2 separate regions of the Homo sapiens genome follow, and region 2 is linked to region 1. The links come from fine-mapping of genetic effects on gene expression. Tissue or cell type: spinal cord. Region 1 holds a variant in brackets; the other region holds the start of a gene. All regions are shown on one strand. Distances are from middle to middle.

Region 1 (2,755 bases):
AATGCAAGGTGCTCGTTGAACTTGTTGTGTTCCTTGAGTAGATTGGTAAGGATCGGGTGGAGGTGAGCTGGGAAGACTCACCTGTGCACCCCGCCCTGCTTGCCTCCAGGCTCTCAGAAGTAACCTTTCCCTGTCTCTAATACAGCTTGGCTCCGTGCTGAGTTTTTTCTGTTCCTGTGCAGACAGTGGCTGGGCCTGGTGTTTTTCACAATCTGTTTCCAGTGTCGGGCCTGGCAGTAACTCATTGTCGCCTTGTCAGGAGAATTCGCACAACCACGGGGACGGTGCAGAGGACTTCAAGCAGCAGGTGCCGTATAAAGAGGACAAACCCCAGGTGCCCCTGGAGTCCGATTCCGTGGAATTCAACAACGCCATCAGCTATGTGAATAAGATTAAAACCCGCTTCCTAGACCACCCAGAAATCTACAGGTCATTCCTGGAGATCCTGCACACGTACCAGGTAAGAACTCAGATTACAATTCCTTGTGGGTTTTGGATTTCATCCAGTTTGGGGCCCTGCAGATATTCAGATTTTCTTGTCGGAATTCATAAAATCCTGTAAAATTCTAATTAGTTGTGGGGTTTTTTGTTTGTTTTTTCTTAGAGTCTGGCTCTGTTACCCAGGCTGGAGTGCAGTGGCACGGACTCGGCTCATTGCAACCTCCACCTCCTGGGCTCAAGCCATCCTCCAACTTCAGCCTCCCAAGTAGCGGAGGCTACTTGGGGCTAGAACATGGGCGCACATCACCACACCTAGCTAATTTTTGTAATTTTTGTAGAGACAGGGTTTTGCCATGTTGCTCAGGCTGGTCTTGAACTCCTGAACTCAAACGACCCATCCACCTCAGCCTCCCAAAGTGCTGGGATTACAGGTGTGAGCCACCGTGCCCAGCCACCTTTTTTTTTTTTTTTTTTTGAGACAGGGTCTTGCTCTGTCACCTAGGCTGGAGTGCAGTGGTGTAATAATAGCTCACTGCAGCCTTGACCTCCTGGGCTCAAGCGATCCTCCTGCCTCAGCCCTCCAAGTAGCTGGGAGTACAGGTGTGTGTCACCACACCTGGCCAAGACAGTCTTTTTATCAGATGACTTTGTTATTG[C/T]TTAGGCAATACGGCCATCCTTTACTTTGCTGATTACAACTGGGCCCAGCACCAGGAGCTGGGGCTACAGAGACAAATGGCTGCTCCTGCTTAGCTGTTCATTGCAGTGGTGGGAAGAAACTCAGAGGTGGATTGGGGTGGAAAAGAAAGGATGTGGGCAGGAGAGGTGAGTCAGGGTTAATATGATTCCCAGCCCGGTTCCCAACCCGTCCGGGGCCAGGGAGGGGACAGTCAGGTTGAATCTTGACATATCAGTCGGAACCAGTAGGCAGGTTAGCCTGGAGGAAGGGTGGACATTCTTGGTGCCAGGAATGGCCTGTGCAAAGGTCCAGAGACCAGAGCAGACAGCGGCATCAGGGCGTCTGCAGGGGACTTGGGCAATGCAGGTGGGCTGGTGGCGAGGGACATCTGTGTCGTGAGTGGGGCTTAGACGTCCTCTTCACCCAGACGTGGAGTCTCTAACGCTTGGAATTTTTTTTAGCAGCAGAACCCATTTTTTTTCTTTTTTTTGAAACAGAATCTTGCGCTGTCACCCAGGCTGGAGTGCAGTGGCTCAATCTCAGCTCACTGCAACCTCAGCCTCCCGGCTTCAAACAATTCTCCTGCCTCAGCCTCCTGAGCAGCTGGGACTACAGGCATGGGCCACCACGCCCAGCTAATTAGCAGAACCCATTTTTTAAAATGAAATCCCTGCAGCCTTGACATGTCGAGTCAAGAAGCGGGATTCTTTTCAGCATAAGCGTTTCAGATCAAATGGATAGAATTTGTGTTCTGGGAACTCCACAGCATTTGTTGTCCACCGTGCTGGCATCATCATGGGCCTTAGCATCTGTGAGAGGCTGGTACAGCCCTAAGAACGCTTGTTTGTCATGGATGAGTGGTTGCCAGTGGCTGCTGTGAGCATCTGGTCTGTGTGGAGGGATGTGCTTGTGATCGTAGAATCTGTGGGCCCCTCCCAGGCTTTGTGGGGTCATCACATTTAGGAAGGCGCATCAGAGCAGTCTGTGCAGTGGCTCTGTTCTGTGGCAAAGGAAGGGGCAGGTTAAAGACACTAGAGATGAATTTAGACAAGGTCACAATGAGGGGTTGCCACAGACTCCTTCAGAGAGAGTGCCATGGGAAGGGACAACGCAGTATCCCCCAACCCAAACCGGGCTGCTGAGAGTTGGTTGAGAATGCAGACACCTGGCCACCATGCAGGATTCCCATTCATCAGGGCCCGCCCGGCATCGGCACAGTTTCTTTTTTTGTTTTTATTTTTTTGAGACTGGGTCTCACTGTTGCCCAGGCTGGAGTGCAGCGGCATCATCACAGCTCACTGCAGCCTCTACTTCTCTGGGCTCAAGCAATCCTCCCACCTCAGCCTCCTGAGTGACTGGGACTACAGGCGCTCACTCCGACGCCCAGCTAAGGGCTAAGAGGAGACGGGGTTTCACCATGTTGCCCAGGTGGGTCTTGGAACTCCTGGCCTCAAGTGATCCACCCACCTCAGCCCCCCAAAGTACTGGGATTACAGGCGTGGGCCACCATACCCAGCTGGATGGCATCTGCATTTTAAACAAGGCCCCTGGTGACTCCAGCCTCAGGTTGTCTAGTTTTTTCAAATGTAAGTTTGAACTGTTGTGTAAATTATCCTGGTTTTAGAATGTTGGTTCAGA
Region 2 (2,607 bases), 490 kb after region 1:
AGGCTGAGGCGGGCGGATCCCTTGAGCCCAAAAGTTGGAGGTTGCAAGAGCCGTGATCGCGCCACTGCACTCCAGCCTGGGCGACAGAGTGAGACCCTGTCTCAAAAATAAAATAAAATAAAATAATAAAGTAAATAAAAATATTGAGCAGGGCGAGGTAAGGGGGTATTAGAACTCTATTCTGTCAGACAGATTTTTCTTAACACGCAAGTGCGCCGCCCGCCCGCTCTGATCCAGAACCAGAGAATCCGCCATGCGAAGGCGCTCCCGGAGACCCCGCCCAGCCAGTGCCTGGAATTCCACCATCAGCGCTTTATTCCGAGTTTCAGTGCTGTCCTGGGTTAACCTGAAAGCAATCTCCGAGGCTCCCCTTTCTGGCTTTCGGGGAGCCAGAGACTGACCGGACACTTGGCTCTGCAGGTGCAGACCTGGACCAGAGAGACAGAGAGCCAAGGAAGTCCACAGTGGAGAGAGGGCTGTGCTGGGGGTTCCAGGAAGACTTCCTGGAGGAGGGGATCTTGGAGCTAGGCCTTGAAGACGAGTTTGTCAAATGAGGAAGGGCATCCGAAGCCGAGGGAACGGCAGAAGGGAACGCTGGGGAGGGGAGAGAATCTGGAGAGTTCCGGAAAAAGCAAGTAGGACTCTTTCCAGAAGTTCGGGCAAGATTTTCCCTGGATCAGGGCGTGGGTTCTCCAGTACTCGTCCCTCCCGGTCACCGAGATGCTCTGAGTTTCCGGTCTGAACCTGAACGTAAAGAGGTGTAGTCCCTCCTTTCTTGAACGGGAAAACTGAACGCACATAGGTCCTTGCCACGCCTAAGGCTGCGGAGTGAGCAGATGGAAAATGCGGGACTCAAAACCTCCCCTCGCTGTAATTTGCACTGCCCTGTGCCAAACTCTGTCCTTTCTTCCATTCCTTATTCCTATTGTCAGCCTCGCTGCGCTAGGACCCTAAAAATTTGGTCTCATGTTGCCCGGGGAACAACATTTCGCTACACCTACCTCCATACCGCCTCCCGCTCCCGCTCTCCCTTGCACCAGCCAATGGAAGCGAGTATCTTCAGACGGTGGGCAGGACGTATCCTAAGATACCCAATGGTGGTCGAGAATAGTTGAGCACTTTACTAGTCAAGCCGCGGAGTGGGCGGGGCCCCCTGCCCAGACTTGAAGCCACACAGGCAGGTCGGGCAGGCGGGTCGCAGGTTGTAAATCCATGTGGCGGGGGCTTTGGACCCTGGCGGCCCAAGCGGCACGTGGGCCTCGCAGGTGGGGCTACAGGGGAAGGGGTGCGACAGCTTGGGGTGCTGCTTGGACCCCAGACCCACTCCCTGGGTTTTAGGGGCCCAATTCCCTGCGGCAGAGCAATCATTCGCGTTCTTCCGTGCCTCAATCGTTCATGACCCTTGCGGCAGAGCCCATATCTGGGTCTCCTTCTGGCCTCACAGTCCCTAATCCGGTCACCCTTCGGCCTTCAGAACATCCAATTTGTGCATCCCCCAGCCGCAGAACCCCCCCACCTGGAGCATCTCGCGATCATCGAGCCCTCGGTCTACTTGACACTGAGGCTGAGCCTCCCAGGTGCGCTGATTCGCCTCCCCTCCGGTTCCAGATTGTGCACGCGCCGGAGCAGCGGCGCACCAGCCCCCGGCTCCGGCGCCACCATCTTCGCGCTAAGCTCTGGCCAAGGCCGCTGCGGCATCGCAGTGATCCGGACCAGCGGCCCCGCCAGCGGCCACGCCCTCCGAATTCTCACAGCACCCCGAGACCTGCCCCTTGCTCGCCACGCCAGCCTGCGCCTGCTCAGCGATCCCCGCTCCGGGGAGCCTCTGGACCGCGCACTGGTGCTCTGGTTCCCAGGTGAGGGTCCCCAGGTTCCGAGCCTCCTGTAGGTCCCATGACTCAGTTTCCCCCTTCCAAGGGTTTGCACTGGCTGTGCTGTCCTCCTGTCACCTGTCTGTCACATTAGGTCCCCAGAGTTTCACCGGTGAGGACTGCGTGGAGTTCCACGTGCATGGAGGCCCGGCAGTGGTGAGCGGCGTCCTGCAGGCCTTGGGTGAGTTGCAGCGTTGGGTGAGATGCTTGGTCCTCCCAATGGGCCTGGGTGGGGACCAGGGGGTGTCAGACTGGGACCTTCCTGCAGGCAGCGTGCCAGGGCTTCGACCGGCGGAGGCAGGCGAGTTCACCAGACGGGCGTTCGCCAATGGGAAGCTGAACCTGACCGAAGTGGAGGGGCTGGCGGACCTTATCCACGCGGAAACAGAGGCGCAGCGGCGGCAGGCCCTCAGGCAGCTGGACGGAGAGCTGGGCCACCTCTGCCGTGGCTGGGCCGAGACCCTCACCAAAGCAAGTCCCCCATTTGTCCATTCTCTCCCTCAGAGACCCCATCTGTGCAACCCCTGCATGAGACCCCCTCTCAATCCCGCATTCATTCCCTGCGTGAAAGCTTCCGGCCTATGAGCCGCCATTCTGGCCCCTGAAGTCGGGCTGGACAAATTGGGTGTGGGAAGGTGGGTTTCTGGGTGCACACACCACCTCTGCTCTCCCTGCCCCGCCAGGCTCTGGCCCACGTGGAGGCCTATATCGATTTCGGCGAGGATGACAACCTGGA

Evidence for each region. PIP is the estimated chance that this variant, and not a neighbour inherited with it, causes the effect.
Region 2: GTPBP3 starts here. The variant in region 1 is fine-mapped to the expression of GTPBP3 in spinal cord (GTEx, PIP above 0.99).

What each region holds. Positions count from the first base shown.
Region 1 is chr19:16,841,509-16,844,263 of GRCh38, forward strand. It overlaps SIN3B (SIN3 transcription regulator family member B), which reads left to right. Exons shown (of 19, transcript NM_001297595.2): 4 at 260-460. Among named protein-coding and RNA genes, the nearest start is that of SIN3B, 13 kb to the left of the region's middle. The variant C/T (reference allele first, on the strand shown) is at 1,098.
Region 2 is chr19:17,336,400-17,339,006 of GRCh38, forward strand. GTPBP3 (GTP binding protein 3, mitochondrial) reads left to right here and starts at 1,154. Exons shown (of 9, transcript NM_032620.4): 1 at 1,154-1,265; 2 at 1,609-1,856; 3 at 1,966-2,052; 4 at 2,140-2,342; 5 at 2,555-2,607. The coding sequence starts at 1,213. RefSeq lists enhancers at 123-794, 795-1,466, 1,467-2,138.